2 separate regions of the Homo sapiens genome follow, and region 1 is linked to region 2. Evidence: fine-mapped expression QTL. Tissue or cell type: adrenal gland. Region 2 holds a variant in brackets; the other region holds the start of a gene. All regions are shown on one strand. Distances are between the middles of the regions. Region 1 holds the start of SPAG17 (sperm associated antigen 17). Region 2 overlaps SPAG17 (sperm associated antigen 17).

Evidence for each region.
Region 1: it holds the start of SPAG17, and the variant in region 2 is fine-mapped to the expression of SPAG17 in adrenal gland (GTEx, PIP 0.96).

The regions. Positions count from the first base shown.
Region 1 is chr1:118,178,182-118,191,035 of GRCh38, reverse strand. SPAG17 (sperm associated antigen 17) reads left to right here and starts at 5,808. Exons shown (of 49, transcript NM_206996.4): 1 at 5,808-5,965. The coding sequence starts at 5,879. LOC105378930 (a long non-coding RNA gene) reads right to left here and starts at 5,806. Exons shown (of 4, transcript XR_947746.3): 1 at 5,223-5,806; 2 at 4,755-4,881.
Region 2 is chr1:118,139,297-118,152,150 of GRCh38, reverse strand. It overlaps SPAG17 (sperm associated antigen 17), which reads left to right. Exons shown (of 49, transcript NM_206996.4): 2 at 782-922; 3 at 1,522-1,608. Among named protein-coding and RNA genes, the nearest start is that of SPAG17, 40 kb to the left of the region's middle. The variant G/A (reference allele first, on the strand shown) is at 6,043.

The sequences.
Region 1 (12,854 bases), 39 kb before region 2:
CAAAGAAGGACTTGAGAGAACACTAGAGTGAAAACTCCCACACTAACAAATATGAAACAGATGACTTTTAGCTTTGTCTATTTTTACTATGTACAGTTGTTATTTTTCTGATTCATTAAATGTAGATTTGGTATTCTAAACTCTCTCACTACAAATAACATAAAAATTAAATCAACAGCACTTAATTATGGTTCCAGACACTTACAGATATATGACAAGACATTCAAGGCCAAAACTATAAACTACAAATACTGCTTTTATCATTGACAGAAACTGAGGGTTCTTAGGGTAGTTCTTCTCTGGAAAGTGATCTACTCCCAGGCTCCCCAGAATTCACACGGGATTACAAATTGCAAGCACTGCAGCTGATTTTAATTGCCACAGTGATGCATAGGGAGAGATGTGATATCTGGAGTAACTGGCTTCTAAACAATGAGGGGTTTTAAAGATTAAAGTCAACACTTTAAATAGCACTCAAAAATAAATAGGAAGCTAATGCTGACCATAGAATGCAGGTATAATATTCTCCATATGTTTTGGACCCTGTAGCTGAAAGACACCTAGCCCTTTGTATCACACACAATAAAAACTCAAAGACAGGGCATTATAGCACTCTATTTTGAAGGTTAGAAATGCAAAGATCATGGTGTGAACAAGACATATGTATACCGAGAGGTGTTCTTGGATGTAGGATACCAACTGGAGAAATCAGTAGACATCTGTGAGGCCTTCTTAACCCAAGGCAAGTTGGTTGCTGCAGCTAAATGGATTTTGAATACCTGGAATCCTGGCCTAGAAGTGACTTGGTCTATAGTTCCTGCTGTTACCTGACAACAATGGAAGTACTGGATGCATCAATAGTTGGCTAAACCTTTCAAGTATGAAAAGTAATATGGCTGACTTCACACCTGAGTAAGAGTGAATTATAAGATCAAAGCATAATACTTGAAGAAATAACTTATTTAGTAATCATAGCCTAAAGAAATCATGCATCCCTGAAAGTGGACAGTCTTTGGTAAGCTAAACATATCAAATGCAAACTCATACTGGAAAAACTAAATCAAACAAACCAGGAGTAACCCTGCCAATGTGAAAGAAAATTTTCCAAATAGTATAGTTTTGTTTTAGCCACTGACATATGGGAAAATTTATGTAGTAAAGTATATGCTTATAAAGTTTCAACTTATATTTAGTGGGGGAAACAATTTATTATACCAAAAAAGCATAAACGTATGACAGATGGTAATGCTTTTTTTCTGTTCTTGGCAGGGTCCTTTTTTGGCTGAATGACTTTTGCTACTTCAAATTGTGAACATTGTCATTCACACCTATTTTCTGAAATTAAACAGACCAATTCTATGACGAAACCCCTTATAAATTTGGTTACTGTATAATATCTTCCCATTTTGTATCATAAATTATCTAGAGCACCACTTTCCCTAGAATAATGGAAAAGGCCAAAACTGGGCAAAAAGCATTCTGTAATAAAACCTTTATTTTAAACTCCTTAAATCAATTTTGGAAAACCTTTTATATTTAAATGTTTTCTGGTAGGACTTTACCAAGGAAACTATAAAAGATTATATTAGAAATACACTCTTCCATTCTGAAATATTTATTTTTGGCTTTTAAAATGTTCAACTCCTTTAAATCATTTTCAAAATTATAAATGATGTATATGGATAGCTAGGTGATGGATCTAGTTGGTTTATCTTCCGAAAAATAGGAACATTTTTTCCTAAGTATAGGTGATATAAGACTAGTTTCTTGTATTACTTAACTATGCAAACCATTTGTTTAAAGTAAGAAATTTATTTACTAGATAAAGAAGCGAAAGAATGTACTGTATATGCAAATGGAAAGCAAGGTAAAGGGTGAGATCGAGATCTCACTAGATGCATGGGGTAGTGGGGAGGTAGGGATTAGATCTTCCTGCCTCTCACAGTGGCCAGCATTGTGTATTGCCTCCTTGAAAGTAACAAGGTTTTTCTCTCAGGCAGTTTCAGAAAGGCTGGCTGGTGTTAGATTTATTAACAGGTGATTCTCAGATGAAAATGATAAAAAATGTTAGGGTAGTTACGGTAACCCTTGCTGCTGTAGCAAACCCCAGTACTTCAGCAGCTTTAAGAAAAATGTTTAATTCTCACCTACATAATAGTCCCAAGCAAATGCTTTTGGTGGGAGGAGCAAGATGATCTTCAGGGGAAGGAGAGACCTCTGTGTCACAGCAATCATTCAGAGATTCAAGGTTTTCAATGCCACCCCAATATCAAGCAAAAAGGGTATGAAGAATGCTGGGGGACATTTTTCAAGGCCAGGCTTGGCTAGAACTCAGTCACATGTTCACATCTAAGAATAAGGAAGGCCAAAAAATGTCTGACTCCCATATTAGGAGAAAATAAAAGGAAATGTCTGATGAACAACTGGATAGTTTCTGTCACAATAAATATTGCAAACATCTTACTGCTGCCAATATTGTGGTTGGACAGCTGTCACTTGTTAAAAAAAATGGCTAGTGACACTATCTCTGCAATTTTTAAATAACACTTAATTTTACTTTTTTTCTGCTTATTCTATTTTTTCCTCTTCTTATCTGCAACGTATTTTATTAATCATCTGCTAGTGATCTGGCAAAACTGATTGCAGGTAATGGTTTATTTTGAAGTGTGCGTTCACATTCAAGAAGAAAGAATATTAGTAATGTAGCGAGACACGCACAAACAGCTAAATTTTTTAATAAAATATCCCGGAATGCCAACAAACTTTTTACTACGTTTTAAATAAAAAGGCAGGACTTTTTTTCCCCCAGTTTAAAACTATGAGAACTTAATCAAAATTTAGAATGATCTAATTAATGATTAGGTAGATTTTTTTTTTTTTGGTCTGAAAGAGACTCAACTTTATTTTCTAGCCATAATACAAAGAAAATTTTCATCTTACAAATGCTGAAAAAATTTTGGTGAGGAACAAAATTTTGGAGAAAATGCTATGAAAATTAACAGCAGCCTCGGTGTTGTTATAGACTCTCAGGAAAATTCTTTTCTGGCAGATCTCTCTCTGGCATTACCATGCATCAGTTATTTTATTTTCATGACAAAAGAGGGCTTCCAGATGTAAATTATTTAGCCTATGGCCAGGCTGCCATAGGATCTATCTATTCCCTCCCAAGAAGATGAACTGTATTTATTCCAGCAAGAAATAAAAACTCGTATTTTTCTGTAAAGTTTCTGTGAAAGACTGTTTCTAGAAATTATTTTTCTTTAATACAATGGTCCCTTGGTATCCACAGGGAATTAGTTCCAGGACCCTTCACGTTCTCAGATAGAAAAATGTCTGATATTCAAGTCCCTTAATGATGTGTCTGCATTTGGTTCCTGCCGGTGGGTTCATGGTATCGCTGACTTCGAGCATGAAGCCCAGGCTTCCACGGTGTTATAGCTCTTAAAGATGGCATGGACCCTGTCCGGGTGCGGTGGTTCACGACTGTAATCCCAGCACTTTGGGAGGCTGAAGTGAGAGGATCACGAGGTCAGGAGATGGAGATCATCCTGGCTAACACAGTGAAACCCCATCTCTACTAAAAATACAAAAATTAGACAGGTGTGGTGCTGGGCGCCTGTAGTCCCAACTAGTCAGGAGGCTGAGGCAGGAGACTGTTGTGAACCCAGTCTGCCTCCGCTGGGAGGCAGAGCTGGCAGTGAGCCGAGATCCACCATTGCATTCCAGCCTGGGAAACAGAGTGAGACTCCATCTCAAAAAAAAAAAAAAAAAAAAGATGGCACAGACCCAAAGAGTGAGTGGTAGCAAGGATTTTTGTGAAGAGTGAAACAGCAAAAGCACAAAGCTTCCACAGCATTGAAGGGGACCCAACAGGTTGCCGCTGCTGGTTGGTGGTGGACAGCTTTTATTCCCTTATTGTCTCCGCCCATGTTTTGTTTTTGTCCTATCAGAGCGCCCTTTTTTCAATCGTCACTACGATTGGCTACTTTTAGGATCCTGCTGATTGCTGCATTTTACAGAGTGCTGATTGGTGCATTTTACAGAGCACTGATTGGTGCATTTTTACAGAGCACTGATTGGTGCATTTTACAATCCCCTTGTTAGCTACAGAGCACTGATTGGTGCATTTTACAATCCTAGCTACAGAGTGCTGATTGGTGCATTTTACAATCCTGTTGTAAGAAAAGTTCTCCAAGTCCCCACTCAACCCAGGAAGTCCAGCTGGCTTCACCTCTCAATAAAATGGCCTAGTATTTGCACATAACCTACGCACATCCTCTCCTACACTTTAAATCATATCTAGATTATTTATAATATCTAATATTATGTAAATGCTGTAAAATAGTTGTTATGCTGTATTTTTATTTGTATATTTATTTATGTTTTAATATTTTGGATCCAAAGTTGGTTAAATCCAGGGATGAAGAACTGTGATGATGGGAGGGCTCACTCTAACTATATTAAAGAATTAGGGTGGAAAGATAAACTTCCTTTCATGGTCCAAATTACGAACAAAAGTTGAAGCATCATCATTAAAATTTGCCCCCAAATGAAAAAGGATGCTAGTGGCTGGATAGCACTATCCTCCTTCCCTCAATTTATTCCTCAAAGAAATTAAAAGGGTTAGCAATTAAAAGGTTTAGAACATCCCCCGTGGAAGGTCACCCGTTCATCAGGTTGTGCCCAGGGAAATTAAGTTTCTGGCTTGCATCACCTCACTCATCTGGGCCACTGGGATAACTGAAGCATCTCACCTCTAGGCAAAGTGCAGGGCCTTAATGGCTAGTTAAGCCCTGGTCAGTGCTGAATTCCATATGACTAATGAGACCGCAAGGCACCTTTGGTTGCGCTCTGCCCCAGGGTGTCCTCAAATTTGTCTCACTGCAATAAAAAACAAAAGTAAATCTAGCTCCAGAAGGGGGTATCCCTCATTTTGGCAGGCCTAAAACAGTAGTAGACAGCAGTGTAGCAGTTATGCACACTAGATCTGTGACTCAGATAATCCTGGGATCTAATCCTGGCACCATCAATCAGACACTGTGGGAATTGGATAAGGTGGTTGTGAGAATTAAATGAAATAATCTTGTATATAGCATATAACCAGTGCCCAAGAAACAATGGTTTTTATTACTATCATTATTTTGGGAAACTTGTCCAACCAGGATATTTTAGATATTGATGAGTGCAGGGTGGGAAAAAAGGGGAAAAAAAAGTCTACTTACCAATCAATAAAAGGCAGTTTAAAGGACTGGAGCTGTTTGGGCAGATAAGTACATTAATCCCACCTACAGTTAGATAAGGGGTCACGTGGAAGGGTGATTGGACTTGTTTAGTAAGGCCCCAGAGGCGGAGGCTGAAACAGTGCAGAGGGTAGAGGTCAAGGAGAGACAAATTTGGATTCATATAAGGAAGCATTTGGGGCAGATTAGAGCGGTTGGGAAAAAACGGCATGGGCTGCCTCCTGAAGGGGTCAGTATTCCAATCTTGGTTACTCAGGATCGGAAGAAATCTTGATGGAGGAGTCCTGGATGGGATTCCAGAGATTTTGAGTTTCTAGACAACGCCTCAGACCGTAGAAGAACGTAGCCCGACCTGCGAGGCCAGCCTCGTCCTGCCCTCCTCCAGTTGTGCAGCTTTCCTGCTGAAAAGTCCTAAAATTTGACCGGGGGACTGGGAACCCCGCCCCCAAGCTGCCGCGCGCTCTGAAACTCCGTTGCTGTGGAGACGGAGGCGGTTGACCCAAGGATTCCGAACGGTGTTGGGGGAGGGGAGCCGACGTGGTTCAGGAACTGGGCGTGGCTTCGGTTACTGTGGTAGCGGGGACGCTTAGGCAGGGCCTGCGCCCAGTTTAGAGGCCAATGCTTCTCCCGTCCTTTGCATGGCACCCAAGAAGGAGAAAGGAGGAACTGTGAACACCAGTTCTAAGATATGGGAACCCTCGCTCATAGCTGCACAGTTCAATCAGGTGAGCCTTGAGCCCTTTAAGCCCTCCCTGCCCCCGGCAATGCCAGAGGCCCGGCCAGACCCTCCTAGGCGACGCCTTAAGGCTCGCCCTCTCTTCCGTATCTCTCCGTGGCCTGATGGTTCCAGGACCCAGGGTCCCAGGGACAGGAAGTGCTTGATAAACGAACGGAACTTAAGGGAACACCCACCAGGTGAGTCAGTGTGATTTCAAAGGTTGGTGAGAACTGCCTAGTGGGGAAGAGAGGAGGTGTCGCTCTGACACCTCCAGAACCTTTTCAGTGAAGTCGTCCAGATGGCACTCCACAATTGTACTGGAATTCCTTTTATGGACTTTTTGTTTTCTCCTGAAACCTTCTAAAGGATGAGAATCGCATCAAATCATCTGTGGCCTGGCCCATAATAGGGCTTTAATAAATGCTGAGTGAAAACAGACACGGAGTGCCTAGAATTACACTGTATTTAGTACAAGCGAGCCTTGTATAGATAGGAAAAGATGATTTTTTAATGTAATGCCCTGATCCCACTATATTAAAGTTTTGACATATTTTTAAGGTGTGGGAGATCAGAGCAATGAGGGGTTGGCGGCCAACTTACCCACAGAATGCCACAAAGGCACCAGGCAATCTACAAACCACCTACCACAGGACTTCAAAGTGCATGAGATCCCAGAATTCACTGGCTCCCCACCCAGCTTCAGTAAATGAGGAGCCCAATAGCTCTTGTCACCTGCAGCTGGAAATCCCCTTCTACATTAAGCTGTTTCTACGTACAAGTTAGCATTTGGGAAGAGAAAAGTTGTTTCTGGAAATTCCAGCCCGCCATTATGAACTACTTTGAAAAGTGGGGAAAAAAAATTTTTTTTTCATTTTATATATGTCTGTATGGTGCACTAGAGAGTCAGTACTTAAAGGGAAAATGGATCTAAAGTCTTGTGTTGCCTTCATGAGAAATTTTTACCTGTCTTTATTTTCCACTATAACTGTTTTTTTTTCCTATTAACAGTAATTCTGTTTGATAAGGAAATTAGTCCTGATGAAGAATTTCATGAAAGTAGTTGTGATACTCCTGATGCTGATGTGATGTCATGGAATTTTGGGTCCTTTCTATAACTTTAGTAATGCTGGATGTCAACTCAGTAATCCCCAGTTACATTCTCAAATTCTCAAAGATGTTTTTCAAAGCACTTTGTAAAAGCACCCTCTCTTTTGCTTTTATAAGTCAGCGCTAGCCAAAATAATTTTTTCTCCATTTTCTTTGAGATTGTGTAGGCCAAGTTTGGTCTTGGAGTGAACATTTCTGCTTGAATTATAAACTGCTGAACAACGGAGTTTGATGGAGGTGCTGACACTGCATTAGCTTTAGTGTTGCAAATATGAAGCTATAATTTTCCTAGTTGAATGGAAAACCTAAAGGCACTATTTGTCCTTATGGCTTGAAAACCTGAAATAATATTCAGCTTTCTTGATCCTACTCAAACAATATAACTTCAATAAATCTTATGTATTAATAGAAAGAATTTGAACTCAAAGTAATATGTAGTTTTAACTATAAACAGTGAACTCAATTTTCTTCAGTTTGTTGGAATACACATTTTCTTATTGCAGGAAAAAGACAACTACCCTCCACCTCCTCTCTCATTTTTCTCTGCTTGATTTCATGTCTGATCTAAAAGAATAATTCCCAGATTAACCCAGCAGTTCAATGCCCAGAGGCGTGCCCTAACCACCAATGAAACGGACTCTGAATTTAGGTTATAGATGACTGTGGGTGTGTGAATTTTGAGCACACGTAGTGTGCTCTATTGTTTTAGTATCCAGAGAGTTTCTTTCCATACACTTGTTACTCATGTCCAAGTATGTGTGGTTGAGTGTGTGTGCTAGTTTATGTGTTGTATTATGTGTGTGTGCTGGGGGTGAGAGAGAAGGAAAGAATTCCTCCAGTCTTCCATAAACAAGTTTTTAGAAGTAACTCATTGGATAACCCAAATCAATAGTATTTTTGAACTCATGTTCATGTTGGGTAGGCTTTAAAGAGAATAAACAAGTTCACATTTTGGTTTTATTGAATTTACCTTGTATCACTGTCTCAGGTTGTCCTTTCAGGCTGGAATAATTATCAGTTGTTTCATACATTTTAGTTGGTTTTAAAATATAAAATGATAGCAAATAATACAAAGCATTCTATCACTAAGCACTAAATGATTAAATAGAGACTAGAGGTTAGGAAGATGAATATGGGCTGGGATAGTCAGGAAATGATTTGTAAAATATTTGCCTTCACCTGGGCTCTAAATAATGGGTGGAATTTGAACAGGTAGAATGAAGAAGCATGATTATTTTAAGTAGGGAGACTAATATGTGCACCAAGTAAATCTGATACATTTAGATTGGGAGAAAAATGTACGTTAGACCACTTCTGGGTCTACGTTGCTCCTAAATTAATTCCGTCAAGGAAATGGTCATTTACTATCTTTGCTATCCATATACCAAAATATTTAACTTACTGATATGAGTGAAATATCACATCTCAAATTATATAAAAAGAAAATAGGTACATTGGCAATAAGATAAAAATACCCTTTTGTGTTAGTATGTATGTGACATAGACATTATATTTATGATCTCTAGCAGCATTAGAAAGTCAAAGATGCCTTGGTATCATAGAGATTAAAATCTTTCCATGCAATGGTCAAGGCAGGCTCTATTGGCCACAGTGATAGGAAGAAGTGTTAACCTTAGCACTCGGTACTATTTAAACAATATTAATTCCCCATCCTTCCCTCTCCTCACCCCCTGGAAGCTGCCATTGTACTTTCTTTCTCTCCAAATTTGACTACTTTAGGTACTTCATGTAAGTGGAATCATGTAGTATTTGTCTTTTTGTGACTCTTATTTTTACTTAACATAATGTCTTCAAGGTTCATTCATATTGTAACATGTCTCAGAATTTCCTTACTTTTTACATTTTATTTATTCATTCATTCATTGATGGGCACTTGGGTTGCTTTCACCTCTTGGCTGTGGGTGTGCTAAAATCTGTTGGAGTCTCTGCTTTAAAATCATTTGGGTATGTGTACAGAAGTAGAATTGCTGGATCATATGATAATTCTGTATTTAATTTTGTTTTGAGACGGGGTCTGTGTGGCCCAGGCTGATCTCAAACTCCTGGACTCAAGCAATCCTTCCACCTCGGGCTTTCAAAGTGCTAGGATTGCAGGATTAAGCCACTGTGCCCAGATTTAATTTTTTGAGGAACTACCATATCATTTTGCACAGTGGCTACATCATTTTGCATTCCCACCAACAATGTACAAGGATTTCCATTTCACCACATCTGTGCCAGCACTTTTTATTTTTTATTTATTTATTTTTTGGTGAGGTTTGTTTTTGTTCATTTTTTGGTTTTGTTTTTGATTTTTTAATAATAGCTGTCCTAACAGATATGAGATGATAGCTCACTGTGGTTTAGATGTTCATTTCTCTAATGATAAGTGATGTTGAGTGTCTTTATTCTTTGTCTCTTGTAACAACTTTTGACTTAAAGTCTTTTTTTGTGTGTAATAGTTGCTTAACTTCCCCTGCTCTCTCTTGGTTACTATTAATATTTGCATGGAATATCTTTGTCTGTTCCTCACTTTCAACCTATGCATATCCTTAGAGCTAAAGTGAATCTCTGCACACAGCATATACTTGGATTCTGAGTAGTTTTGTTTTTTTTTTAATCCATTCTGCCAGTCTCTGTTTTATTATTGTAGGGTTTAATACATGTACATTTAAAGTAATTACTGGTATGAAAAGACTTACTTTTGCTAGTTTATTATTTCTTTTCTATATGCCTGACAGATTTTTTTGTCCTTTGTTACCTCCATTGGTGCCTTTGTTTAGTTGATTTTTTTGTGTGACATGTTTAGAATGCCTTTTCATTTTCTTCTGTGTATATTCTATAGATATTTTCTTTGTGGTTACCATGGGGATTACATATATCATAAAATTATAATAATCTGTCTTAAATTGATACTAACTTAATATCAATTGCTTATATAAATTCACTTTACAGCTTCACCTTCTGCATGACTTATGATGTCACAAATTACATCTTTATATACTATGTACCCATTAGCATAGATTTATAATTAATTTTATACATTTTTCTTTAACTCCTGTAGAAAATAAAGTGGATTTGCAAATCAGATTACAATAATACTGTTAAAAATAAATTTGTCCATGCATTTTTTTACCAAAGAAATTTATATTTTTTATAGCTTTCAGCTACTATCTAGCATCCTTCATTTCAACTTCAAGGACTCCCTTTAAAATTTTTTTATCAATTTTATTTTTGTATTCATACGTAATAGAGGTACACATTTTAGAGGTACATGTCATAATTTAATACAATCATATAGTTTGAAAAGATCAAATGACTATAAGTAGGATATTCATCACTTTAAATATTTGTCTTTTCTTTATACTAGAAACATTCCAATTATTCTCTTCTAGCTTTTTTGAAATATATGATAGATTATTGTAAATTATAGTCACTCTACTGATCTATTAAACACTAGGACTTATTTCTTCTATCAAACTCTATATTTGTACCCATTAAGCAAACTCTATGCCCTGGCTTCGCTACTTTTCCCAGCCTCTGATAACTGTCACTCTACTCTTTATCTTCATGAGATCTACTTTTTTATTTCCTACATAAGAGTGAGAACATACGATATTCATCTTTCCCTTATTTCACTTAACATAATGAACGCCAGTTCCATCCTTGTTGCTATAAAGGACAAGATTTCATATTGTATGGCTGAATAGTATTTCATTGTGTATATGTACTGCATATATACAGTTTTCTTTATTGATTCATCTGTTGATGGGAACTTAGATTGATTCCATACTTTGGCTATTGTGAATACTGCTGCAATAAACATGGAAGTGCAAATCTTTCTTTGATACATTGATATCATTTATTTTGGCTATATACCAAGTAGCAGAACTGCCGGATTATATGGTAGTTCTACTATTAGTTTTTTGAGGAATCTCCCTACAGTTTTCTATAGTGTCTGTACTAATTTACATTCTCATCAGCAGTATACAAGAGTTCCTCTTTCTCCACATCCCTGCCAACACTCATTATTCCCTGTCTTTTTGATAAAAGCCATTTTAACTAGGGTGGGATGATATCTCATTGTAGTTTTGATTTGCATTTATCTGATGATTAGCGATGTTGAGCATCTTTTCATATACCTTTTGGTCATTTGTACATCTTTTTTGAGAAATGTCTATTTGAATCCTTTGCCTATTTTTAAATCAGATTATTTGGGGTTTTTTCCTATTTAGTTGTTTGAGCTCCTTAAATACCTGGTTATTAATCCCTTGTCAGATGGATAATTTGCAAATATCTTCTCCCACTCCATGAGTTGTCTTTTCACTTTGTTGATTGTTTTCTTTGCTGTGCAGAGCTTTTTAACTTGATATGATCCCACTTCTCTATTTTTGCTTTGGTTGCATATGCTTTTGAGGTCTTACACAAAAAAATACTTGCCTAGACCAATGTCCTGAAACATTTCTCCAATGTTTTCTTCTAATAATTTCATAGTTTCAGGTATTAGATTTAAGTCTGCAATCCATTTTGATTTGATTTTTGTTTATGGAGAGAGACAGGGGTCTAGTTTCATTCTTCTGCATATGGATATCCAGTTTTCCCAGCATTTATTTCCCATTTATTGAAGAGACTGTCCTTTCCTATTGTAAGCTCTTGGCACTGCTGTTGAAAATGAGTTTACTACAAATTCGTGTATTTATATCTGAGTGCTCTATTCTGTTCCATTGGTCTATGTGTCCATTTTTATGTGAGTCCCATGCAGATTTGTTTACTATATTTTGAAATCAGTTTGATGCCTCTAGCTTTGCTCTTTTTGCTTAAGAATCCTTTGGTTCTCCTGGGTTTTGTGTGGTTCCATGTAAATTTTAGGATTTTTTTTCTATTTCTGTGAAGACCGTCATTAGTATTTTAATAGGGATTGCATAACTGTAAATTATTTTGGATAGTATGGATATTTTCACAGTATTAATTCTTCCAATCCATGAGCATGGGATATCTTTTCTTTTTGGTGTATATCCTCTTCAATCTCTTACATCAGTGTTTTCTAGTTTTACTTGTATAGATCTTTCATTTCTTTGATAAAATTGATTCCTAGGCATTTTATCACTACTGCAAATGGGCTTACTTTATTGATTTTTTTTCAGATTGTATGCTGCTGGTGAATATAAGTGCTACTGATTGCTGTATGTTGATTTTGTATCCTGCAACTTTACTGAATGTTGATTTTGTATCCTGCAACTTTACTGAATATATCAGTTCTAACAGTCTCTTTGGTGAAGTCATTAGATTTTTCTAAGTATGAAATCATGTCTGTGAACAATGCTAATTTGACATATTTCTTTTCAATTTGGATGTCCTTCATCTCTATCTCTTGCCTAATTGTTCTGGCCAAGATTTCCAGCATTATATTGAATAAAAGTGGTAAAATTCAGCATCCTTTTCATCCTATTCCAGATCTTAGAGGAAAGGCTTTCCATTTCTTCCTGGTCAGTATGATTTTAGCTGAGGGTTTGGCCTTTATCATTTGAGGTATGTTTCTTCTACACCCAGTTTTTTATGGTTTTCATCCTAAAGGGATGTTAAATTTTGTCAAATGCTTTTTCATCATCTATTGAAATGATCATATATGTTTTGTTCTTGGTTCTGTTCATACAATGTATCATGTTTCTTGATTTACATATGTTAAGCCATCCTCGCATTCCTGACATAAATTCCACTTGATAATGGTAAATTATCTTTTTAATGTGTTGTTGAATTTGGTTTGCTAGTATTAGGTTGGTGCAAAAGTA
Region 2 (12,854 bases):
TTCATCTCTCCCTAAAATTGTTAGTGTTCAAAAGCAGGAATACTGATTTGCGTGAGTAGCTTTCCCCAGCATCTCACAGTTGGTAATGTGAGGTAATCCAGTGAGCGCCACTCTTAATCTCCCAACAGAAATTACAATTACAATAAACAAAGAGAAAAAAGTACTGCATGTAATTCTTTAGTAACTAATTTTTTAAAATTATTTGATGCAAAATTTCATGTCCAAGTGTAATATTTTTGCCCATTTCTTGGGAGTGTAATTAGCAGTAAGATTCCTGTGTTACATTAAGAGAAAAAGATGTGGTTCAGTTCTCATTTGGCAGCTCATCCAATATGACCCAACATTTAACAGTTTTTTTCAGCTGCTTTTATATTCCTACCACTATTTAGAGTCTTGGGATATACCAGGGAACAAAATAAAGATTCCTGTTTTTTGAGACATCTTAATGTATATTTGTGACATAGGAATGAATGATTGCTTTCCAACACCAGATTATTCTTGGACAACATTCTAGTGAAAGTGTCGTTTTAAAAAATTGTCTTCCTCAAAATAAAAGGACTAGTTTCTCCAGAAAATTGTTTTTTGGTCAAGTTGCATGAAATTTGGCACAATACTGCCGCCTTGCGGCTACTTCAATCAGAAAACCACATACATTACAAGGTCACCTCTGTCTTTCAAGTAAGATTTACAGGAAAATTATTCTGCTTCTCAGTGGAAATATTTGACACGAAATGACCTATTCAGGAATATTTAAAATCTAATTCCGTCTGATTTTTAATAGAACGATTGGCAGGCCTCCATTGCTTTTGTGGTTGGGAACCAGATTGAAGATGATCTTCTCATCCAAGCCCTTACCGTGGCTGTCCAGGTCCCTCAGCGTAAACTCTTCAGTATGGTGTCGTGGCAAGACATTCTCCAGCAGGTACCTGTCCCTTCCTACCTCAAAGCCACCTGAAGACTTTTTTACTTAAAATAATAGAATAGAATTATAAAATAAACTATCATATTCTTGGGCTGTTTTGTAAATTTTGATGGATTATTTTAAGTAACTATTTAGCCAGAATAAATTTGAGTTGTTCAATCTGGAAGAATTTATTTTTGTTTATTAATTTTGTTAATTCAATATTCATTTATTTGACAAAGATTTCTGAGGTCATACCAGGCACCATGCTAGGTTCTGTGACAAAATATTTAATTCAAGTTAAATAATTATAAAAGACTAGACTATTTAAGATTCCAGGGAGGTACATGACTAATTGGAAAATGAAGGCTACAGAGAATCATAGCTGTCAGAGGTCAGAGGACAGCAATAATATAGAAAAGATCTGCCAGGTGGCACATACCCATACAATTACTGACAGCTTACGAAGTAACTATAAATATTTTACCTAATTCATGGGTACCTCTTTCTTGCTAGGTTCCCCAACCCTTCAGATCACCTAGATATTTGAAAGTTACATATATCTAAGTATTCTTCAAATAAGGCTTTTTTCATCATAAGTAAATTTAATTTTCTTACAGATTAATGAAATAAATACACTTGTTGGATCTGCTTCATCTAAAAAGGCAAAAAAACCTGTAGGTGGTAATGCTCCTTTATATTATGAGGTAAGTGAAAGTGTTTATAGAAGATATTTTTGTGTTTTTAGAAAAAAGAATTGAAGTAATAATTTGATAGCCATTTTTAAATTTCATTCTTTGAAAATAAATGCCTGCTCCTCATTGGAGATATTTGTTCCTGATGGTGAACACACACAAAAAAAATCTGCCTCCTTTTAAAATTTTAAAATTTCAAAATTTCCCTTTACAAATACAATTTCCTAGATCGTTTATACCATCATTGCATCTAATTGAAATAATTGAAAAATATAAATCAGAAACTTCTATAGACACAAAGTATTGGGTCATACTTTCTCATGATAATTGCTGAGTATGTGACAGCATTAAGGAGAGTCATATGATCAGTATATTACAAAGTGTTAGTTTCTCGAAAAAAACAATGTAAAAATGCGCCAGAAAGTGTTTCTTGTATAAGACAGAGGTACAGCTGCAGTGATTTTCCATCAGTTTGTGAACTTGGTGCACGGTTTATATCCCACTTTAATCGATATGAAAATAATGATACTCTTCGGATTAATGGTCCGTTCCATTTCCAACAGCTGCTTAGTATAAAATCTGGCTTGGCTGACCCAGTGGGCTTGTGCAAAGGACGTAGGACTCATTCTCCGTATAAGGGGATTTCTTCTCACCCTGCCTTGTTAATATCTAACTTACAGCTTTCAAGAAACTATAAAAATCCAGTGATTAATTAGAATATCACTTAAAATTTGTCAGGCACTGTTTTATGGAGCAGCCGACCTAAAACATAAAGAGTTTTGAATCTTTCTAAGACGAACTTGTTTGCACTTTATTTCAGTGATGACTAATAAAGTTTTTATGTGTCTCAGGTCTTGGGTGATTACATACGGTCTATTTAGTATTGCTTGAGTACTATCTGAACAAGTTTCATTGGATTTATTCACAATAGACAGTGCTGTGAATTTTATAGCATTAACTCTTGCTACGCGGCGCTCACCATCATGCCAAAGTTATCTGTGCTTTTGCAGTCAAATAATATACTTTGTCTCTTTTTTATAATGTTCCGAATGTGTGTGCTCCACTTGAAACATTATGTGATACGTGGATTTAAAATACTGGAATTTTTCTTGTGAGTGGCTATAGAAATCCACATCCAATTCTCAGGCCTGGGATCAATTAACCCCCCAAAAGATTCTTTCTTCTTCACAGATACTCAGTAAAAATCAGAAATGATAGCAGCCTAGTTTTGATGTCTAGTCTGGACAGGCATTCTGACTTGGATGTGGGATAGCACAAGATTACAAACCCAGAGTTAAGTTAGAAAGCCATTCCTCTCCAATATGTGCTGAGACTCTTGGTTGCATATTCTTCACTCAGGGGGTCCATTTCACATCTGGCTCTACCACATTCTTCCAGTGGAGCATTTGGGCAATAAGCCTCCCACACTCGCTCACATACACTCTTCTGAATGGTTCCAGAAGAAAAGAGAAGGTGGGTGGAGTGCCATGGAGACTGAACCTGAGGTGCACCAGACATTCATTAATGCCAGTCGCTGAAGCAAAACTAATAAAGACCATAAAACAAATTCAGGCTCCTTGTCAGCATCAGCCAAGGACAGGTTGCACATCTGGAGAAGAGGGGAATATTTCCCATCTCAGTCCCTTCACATTTAGGACCTGCTCAAGCACTCTGCTACCTAGTACCTCTCATCCCAAGACAATTGAAAAGTCACTGGCAACCCCTGCAGAGCTGCATGGTAGTTGCGAGTGGTGGCCATGGAATAGGCCCAGAAAGTCTCTTGGGACTTCTGGACCTTTGAGACATGTGGACAGTGTGCTCATGAATCTATTTCTGTTTAGAATCTTGCATGGTTGTACCAACTAGTGAGAGGTGAAGCTGCCTAGGCTTCTGGGTCGGGTGGGGACTTGGAGAACTTTTCTGTCTAGCTAGAGGATTGTAAATGCACCAATCAGTGCTCTGTGTCTAGCTAGAGGATTGTAAATGCATCAATCAGCATTCTGTAAAAATGGGCCAATCAGCACTCTGTAAAATGGACCAATCAGCAGTCTGTAAAATGGACCAATCAGCGCTCTGTAAAGTGGACCAATCAGCAGGATGTGGGCAGGGCCAAATAAGGGAATAAAAGCTGGCCACCTGAGCTAGCACCTTGCAGCAGGTTCGTGTACCCTTGCCGAGTGTGGAGGATTTGTTTTTTCGCTCTTTGTGACAACTCTTGCTGTTGCTCAGTGTTTGGATCTGCACCAACTTTAAGAGCTGTAACACCACGAAGTCAGTGGCTTCATTCTTTGAAGTCAGTGAGACGAGGAACCCACTGGAAGGAATCAACTCCAGACACACTAGGACACTTGATAGTGGTAAACTCCTGAGGAGCGAAAGTCTTGCAACATCCCATTTCTCAAAGGAAACTCTGCACTGTGGGAGAAGAGATAAAAGATAATCTAACAAATTCCTTTTGTTACATGGTAACTTTTTAGAAACCTCCATTTTGGAGATAAGGAACTCACGATATAACAGCCATGCATTTAAACACCTGTATTTACTTCTACTTGTAGGGTACTCTCGTTAGCTTTAAATCAAAGCCTAGTTATTCTTATTTTAAACACAATTTTAATCAATTAGGCTTTCTGGTTTCCTAGCCTGTGGTTGATTAGAAGCAGCAAACTAAAGTGAGACTTCTGTATAGTATACTTCATCCATGAGTAGTAAAATAGTGTCAGAGCCACATTGCATATTTCCAATAATGACTCCAAATGTCTGGGCTAGCAAAGACCACATTCCTAAGTGATTTGCTCAAGTTTTCATTTGGATGGCATGGTGTTGTGTACACACAGCCTCATTATGAGATTGTGTAATTTCCCCTGAAACCTTAGAATTTCATCTAGCCATGGCATTGTATATATGAAAGTCTTTATTTATAAACCATAGTTCTTTGAAAAGCTGCTTAGATTTGTGCTAATGTAATTCTGTAGAGACGTAGCTGCAGCTCATTTGTTCATTCACATTCTCTTTTTGGAAAGCATGTTTTGCTCTACTAGGAACTGTTTCAAGAACTCATGTGGGAATGAGAACAGAATATTATTATTTGTGTATATTCTCAGGAATGTTGGCTACTGCTTTATCATCTCATTATTATTTAATAATGAGGATGAAGATGAACCCATGCACTGGCATATAAGCACCATTTCCCACATGTGAATCCTACTTGAGGATATGGACACATTTGAAAATATACGCTTATTGCCTGCATTATATAGTAGCCGGTTTTACCGAATATTAACAAACATACTCGTTAAAGCACTAGTGCCAGGCACTATCAGACGATGAAGAGAGAGGAAGGAATATTAATATTATAAAGACTCTAACCTCAAGAAGCAAAGACTCTAACCTCAGGAAGCTTAAGAACAAGCTAGAGAGAAAAAAGGACAAAATGTATATGGACATAAGCCTGGCGCGTGGTAGGCATTCAATAATAGTTGCTGCGTAAGTGAATAACACAATGCAGAAAATAGTGAAGTTCTTGAGAGACAGGTAAAGTGTATAAGAATTCAAAGGAAGATGAGATTATCATTAGCTGGGGTAGTTGGCAGGGAGGGGTGAGACCCAGAGACATTTTTGTGGAAACATTGCCATTTGAAAGGAAAGGTCCTGATAGTTTTGATCTTTTACATATATTACATCAGTTAGCCCACATCACAATTCTAAAAGGAAAGATAAAATCTCCATTGTGTGCACGGGGAAATGGAGGCATAGAGAAGGTAGGAAGTCTGCTCACTAGCAAAATGAAGAATTTGGATTTAACCAAAGGTAAACCTATAGCACCAAGTTTTTCTACTTTATCACCAACCAAGTAATCTTTCACTGGTCTACCCCTTGGATAGGTAGATCTTGACTTTCAAATGTGGAAGAGGGCATTCTAAGAAAAGGGAATAGCTCAAGCAAGGCCATAGGAATGAGAGAAGACCGAATTAATGTGTACTACATTTGTAGTTATATGGTATAATATATGCTAAATAGGAAAGATGAATTCCGTACATATTTTGATGGCAACTTTAAAATCCTAAAGATGGAAATCTATGAGGAAACATTTCAAACACTGGAAAAAGTACATGGTTTAGATTCATGCCTGAACTTAAGTATACTTGCTACCTATGCACAAATAATTTTCTGTGTATGTATGCTTTATGGCCCACATAGAAAATCTGACCTGTTCATTTACAGGTATAGTCAGTCCTGACCAAAATTAAAAAGGAAAATATCAGTAGTCATTCAAAACCAACTGAAATGTTCTCGATGAGAGAGTTCTACGTGTACCATAGATGCCAAGATTCTCCCAGTTGTGACTAAATCTGATACACAGTAAGTGAACTTTATGGGATAAATGTGCAAATTTTAGGTTTGACATTATCACTTTGGTAAATCAGAAAAAGCTACTAGTTGATAGGG[G/A]TTTACTTATCCAATTTATCTGAAATCAGAACCAACCATCCTAAAAGTTTTTAAATTCCACTTCATGTTTCTTTTCATTTCATGATGGTGGTCACCATGCCTACCAACCAGGAAATGAGCCTTCATCCACACAAATGGGCCGTGATTTATGTGCCTGTGACTTATTTATAAAAGACGCATTAGGTCATCACAAAATGAAAAATAAAAAAAATGAAAAGCTTACTGAAACAAAAATTGTCTATAAAGAATAAAAGTTCTTATGCTCTAGTTGATGACTCACTTATTTCAAAACAATTTTCCAAGTTTCTGTACAATAAAGAACTTGAACTATCCTAAACATTATGTGATATGGTGCAATTTTGTAAATGCAAATAATTATTAATTTTTTTTTTACTCCTGTCAGTAAAAAAATTCTCATATTTTTAAGAAAATAATTTTTAAAATAACTTTTTAACAAATATATCTTAAAATATTTCTACGGGCCTTTCTATTGCAACCGGGAGACCATCAAATGTGGAAAGATTTTTCTGATATTAGATTTAAAAATAATGGACCAAATGCAGTTTAATAAAATGTAGAATGCAAATTAGATCTTCAGATCTAATGCATTTCACCATACTTTAAGACACTATGCTAGTGCCTCAGATTAGTATGCCCAGATGTAATAGTTCCATTTTTTGACTTCTGTTTCCTGGATGTATAGAAATTTTTCTCAGGTCTTTTCCAACATGTATTTATTAGTAATTGACAAGTGAGAACACAGGCTTAATTATAATCTATTTTGCCACTCTTTTTCAGATTCCTGATATGAAACTCATTTTTTAAACAGTGCCTTGAATTAATAGTCAATTTAATAGAATTGTAAGCCCTTATATTGGGGGTGGCCCTTGTCAGAATGAAAAATGGAAAACTCATGCTTCAGAGATAGGTACAAATAATATGTGAAAACATTTAAGAGGTTTGAAGTTATTAAAATGGCAGCTCTACTGGGAACAGAGAGAGCAGTATGTCATGGAAGAAACGAAGGAAAAGGGAGACAGGAAGCATTCTCTGGCCTTTTCAATCCCGCGCTTTAAAACAAAACAAAAAAATTCTGGAAGAATTGGAAGCTAGCCAACCTAATGCCGTTATTTCATAGAGCTTAGGGACACACCAGGAAATTGCAGGCCAGTTAGTTTAACTTCACTTGTAGGAAAAGTATTAAAAACTGCTGCAGGAGATCAAGTAAAAGGATGCTTAGAAAAGCACAGCTTGATTAAGGCAAGCCTGGCCAACGTGATTTTCGGAAAGGGAAGGTCATGTCTTAGGAACTTGTTGAAATTCTTTGAAGCTATTATGGCCAGTACAGTCTTCAAAGAATACAGCAAGACTCAGAATCTGCGGATCTTTCCGTTCCACATCAGTCCTTCAGGGATGCCTACAGAACGTGGCCCACACCAGGGCCTCGGCACTCCACATTTAGAAACCACTATCAAAATAGCAGAAATAACCCCTGATGGAACATTTTTTAAAGCTGGAACCAATTAATACAACCTGATATTTATAAATGTAAAATAATGAGACTTGGAACAAAATTTGGGAATATCAAGCTGTAACAAAGAAGTGCTACGTTGGGACTATAAAAACAATCTAGGAGTTCTTGTGCCAAAATCTGGGTTTTGGAGGCATTTCTTACCCGAAGAAGGAAAGAAGAGGAGAAATAGTAATGCTAGAAACGGTTACAAAGGGCTATGAAGAGTTACAAATGAATGACTTTTGTCAAGATGGGGAAAAGAGCAGTCAGATGTGTTAACAGCCCTGGGCCCCCACATTTCTGGAGGGCACCAAAGCAGCTCAGCAGAGAAAGTCAAGTTCAAGCTAGTCACTGAGGGGCAGAAGGTCAGGGCTCCATTGCTTTAGGAATGGGCTCCCAGGGTGTGAATACGTTTGCCTCCCAGATCAGAAACCTGGAGTTCTATTTTCAAAGAAAAGCAGAACTCAAGTAAAGGCATTCAAAAACAATTCAAATCATGCCCCAGCTCTCTTCCACCCTGGGGGTCAGGCAGCTGGCCAAGCCCATGTGGCAAATAGTTAGCAGTCCAGGAGAGGGGAGGTAGACACTGGGGAGGTGTGGTGGTGATGCAGTGGAGCCGGGGATCCAGCAGCAGGAAGCCCATGCCACACAAGGACTGGGTTGCTGGCTAGGACCTGCAGGCAGTGGGCAAGGCAGGAATCTCATCAGGAGTTCCAAGACAGACCTCAGTGGAGGGCCAGCCACAAGAATAAAGTGAGGTTCAGCTAATGAAGAGAAGTCATCACAGCTTCTCCTCCAGGTCTGGGCTGGGGTGGTTTCTGAAACCTCTTAACACCCTATACTCTACAGACACCAGGATTGGAGGGGTGCTGGGGAAGGAATCAAGAAGATTGTATCATTCTGTTTCTGTATTTAAAACTGTGAAAAATCAATAATTACATATGGTGATAATAAAAGTTACCACTTATTGAACACATGTATTCCAAGTCTTGTGTGCTGGGTAGTTCATATATATCAACTAACCTAATCTCTTTTTTTTTGGCTGGCTTTTTTCTTTTTGTGGGGAACAGGAGCGTGCTATGTTGCCTGGGTAAGTCTTGAACTCCTGGGGTTCAAGCTATCCTCCCGCCCCTGCCAGCCCAATTACTGGGATTATAGGTGTAAACCACTGCACCTGGCTAACTTAACCATCTTAACAACCTTTCAGATACCTATGAATGATGAAATTTGAATCAGACTGGTTAGGTAACTTGTTGATTCAGAAGTCTGTTTTTTCTACTTGCATCACACACAAGCTGAGAATAAATAGTTTAAATTCTGGAAGTGACTGTTGTGGTTTAATATGTCTTCAATATAAGCTACTGCTAGTTACTTAGAATTAAGCTTTAAATCTCTCAGTAGTTCTATGATATGTTTATTACTTTTCCTTCTACTCAGGCAAAAACATGAAGGTATATCTGCAGATGATGAAGAGATCAAATAATTTCAGTTGGAGCTTTTAAGCCACTTCGATGAGTGGCTTTTGCCCACATGTTTGGGTCAACAGGGTTTTTTAATTCTTATGGTTAAGATTTATATGGTTAAGTGACCATGTCTTTTCTTTGGAGGATGAAAGAAAGAAAGATGGAAAATAAGAGGGAAGTTAATACATATTCAGCAGAGATCAAAGTGTGGAGAGACCTTTCTAAAATCTCACTAATTAAAACTAATTAGAGGTAAATTCATCTCCAGAGTACCTACCACTAGTTTGGTGAGCGATATACCTAGTGGTTAAAAGTATGGAACCAAACCAGACTGCCTGGGATCATGTCCTGGTTCCACTGCTTGCTAGCTGTGTAATCTTGCACGAGTTACATAACCCTGCTGTACCTCTGTTTTCTCTTTGTAAAATCCTCGTAAATGATAGTATCTATCTTATAAAGCTGTAGTGGTGATTACATGGGATAGTAAATATAAAATACTTATTACCTGGCACAGACTTAAGTGTCCATAAAGTTTAGCTATTACTATTACTATTATTTTTAAAATTTCTATTCTCAGCAATATTCAACATCAGAACATGAAAATACTAGAAACCCATTTATGAGCAGGCTTTAAATTTTTTTTATTATGGTAAAAATATGTAACATAAAATTGCCATTTTAACCATGTCTAAGTGTATAATTCAGTAGTGTTAAATATATTCACTTTGTTGTGCAACCAACGTTCACAACTTTTTCATCTTGCAAAACTGAAGCTCTATATCCATTAAATGACAACTGCTGATTTCTCCTGCACCCTGGCCCCTGATGACCACTGTTCGATTTTCTGTTTCTACGAATTTGACGACTCTGGATACCTCATATAAATGGAATCATATAGTATTTGTCTTGTTGTGCCTGGTTTGGCATAATGTCTTCAAGGTTCATTCATGTTGTACCATGTGTCAGAACTTCCTTCTTTATTAAAGCTGAATAATATTCCAATATGTATATACCACATTTATCTTATGCATTTATCCATTAGTGGACACGTGGGTTGCTTCCACCTCTTAGCTCTGCTATGAACGTGGGTGTTCACATTGTGAGGAGGTTTTTCTCTAAGTGGAGTATGATTACTGAAAGTTAAGTAGACATTTAATTAAGCAAGTAAGGGAAGAAAAGAAGTTAATCAGTGGTCAAAGGATATTTGCAGTGTCCCATTATACTAGTCCTCATGGCCGTGATGGAGACTAATATACATTATTCTTCTTTGTTATGTCATGTAAGGGGTCAATATGACGGAACACCTTAAGAAACAAACAGCAGTAGTAACCATTTCTAAAATAAATAATTTTAAAAATAAAATTTCATGTTTATGTAAAAAGATGATTTTCACACTGCTTATTAAATCTTCACGTGAACTGGGCAGAACAGTTAAAATTAATCTCCATAGTGCAAATGAAGAAATGGAAGCCCAAAAACTTAAATGATTTGTTCACAGTCACCAATGGAATCAGCGTCAGTTCTTCTAATAGTCTAGAGCTTGCTCTACACCTGGCAGAAGGGAGTTCTCATTCATTAAAAAGTTCTTGCTCATTTATTTACCACAAGAAAATTGTATATAATGGATAAAGATTTGCTTTATTACCTAGACATTTATTTTAATGTGCATTAAAAAATAAAATTAGACTAACTTGCAACTCCCCCAACACTGTGCTTCGGACAGAGCTACCTTATTTTTTTAAAACTTGATTTACAGTCAGCTTAGAGAAAATGATTAGGTTTATAGTACAGGTGGTACATAGCTTTGGCTAAATCATCAAATGATAGTCAATGACTAAGGTTTAGGAAATGTTTCATTTTCATGCATTCCATAAATATTCAAAGGTCTATTATGTACAAAATCTATGATTGGATTGACCTTGGTGAACAAAATAGTTATAACTGCCTGGCCTCATATAATTTACATTTGAATGGGGGAGACGGACATTAAGCAAAACTCAAAACAAGCAAACAAATATATACACAATTTTGAGTTAGTTTCATTGCTTTAAATCAGAGAGAATTACTGAGGAAAACACTGTAGGCTGAGTGTTTGGAGATGAATGAAAGGAAAAGAAGATCCAACTGAAAAGAGCAAGGGAAAATATTCAGGCAGAGGGTGCAAAAACCCTAAGGCAGGAATAAAGAAGGCCCGGGTGCCTGTAGCACTGAGAGTGGGAGACAGGAGAAGCCCAAAGAGGCCACATCTGCTGGCTGGTGAGTCCTTGTTAAAAAGGAGTTTGCCGTTTTATTTCATAGGAAATTAGAAAGCCATTAAGACTTTAAAGAGGAGAATGACACAATTAAGTTCTTTTAAAAAATATTTTCTGGCTGCCAAGTGAAGAATAAATTAGGATGAAGGCAGGCAAACATGGAAATGAGACCAGTTAGGAGGCCACTGGGGGTATCCAGGTGGCAATGGGGAGAGCACACAGATTCAAGGAGAATATTTAGAAGGAAGAATTTGGCAGATCGGTGCCCTTGTGAGATGTGAGGGGTGAAGAAGAAGCTATCAAGAGTGAATCCCATAGTTCTGGCCTGAGAGACTGAATAAAAATATCCTTTTTTTCTTTCTTTATGTTTTATAGTTTCATTCCTTTTTATTGTAAATTGACATTTATAATTGAATACATTTATGGGGTAAAAAGTGGTGTTATAATTTATGAATACAATGTGGAATAATTAAATCAAGCTAGTTAACATATCCATTACCTCAAACATTTAACATTTTTTGTGGTGAGAACATTTGAAATTTAACAATTTTGAAATGTACAATTCTCTATTATTAACTATAGTCACTACACTGTGCAAATTTAAAAAAAGAAAAAATGTATTTTTCCTTTTAAACTGAGATTTTCTACCTTTTGACTATTGTCTTAGTCTGTATTCTGTTGCTTATAACAATACCTGAAATTGGGTAATTTATAAAGAAAAGGAATTTATTTTTTATAGTTAAGGAGGCTGAGAAGTCTCAGGTCAAGGGCACCCATCTGGTGGGAGCCTTCTTCCTGGTGCGACTCCATGCGGAGTCCTGAGGTAGCACAGGAAATCACACGGCAAGGGGGCGAATATGCTAATATGCCAGCTCAGGTCCCTCCTCCTCTTTTTATAAAGCTACAAGTTCCCCTCCTGTGATCATCTATTAATCTATTAACCCAGTAATCCATGAATGCAAAGCCCTATCTGGTCACTTCTTAAAGGTCCCACCTATCATACTGCCACAATGGGGATTAAGTTTCAGCATGAGTTTTGGAGGAGACATTCAAACAATAGCAACCATCATCTTTCCATTCCCCCCACCCCCCAGTCTCTGTAACCACCATTCTACTTTCTGCTTCTATGAGTTTGATTTTTAGATTCCCCATGTGAGTGCATGCAATATTTGTCTTTATATGCCCAACTCATTTCACTTAGCATAATGTTTTCTGATTCCATCACAAATGAGAGTTTCCTTCTTTTTTAAGGCTGAATAGTATTCCATTTAATGTATATACCATATTTCTTTATCTATCCATATGTTGATGAACGCTTAGATTGATTCCATACCTTGGCTATTGTGAATAGTACTACAATGAACATGGAGGTGCAGACACCTCTTTAACAAGTTGATTTCAAATCTTTTGGGTAAATACCCAGAAGTGAGATTGCTGGATCATATAGTAATTCTATTTACAGTTTTTTGAGGACCCTCCATAGTGTTTTCCATAATGGGCTGTCGTAACTTATATTCTTGCCAATAATGTACAAGGGTTCCCTTTTCTCCACATCCTGGCTGACACTTGTTATCTTTCATCTTT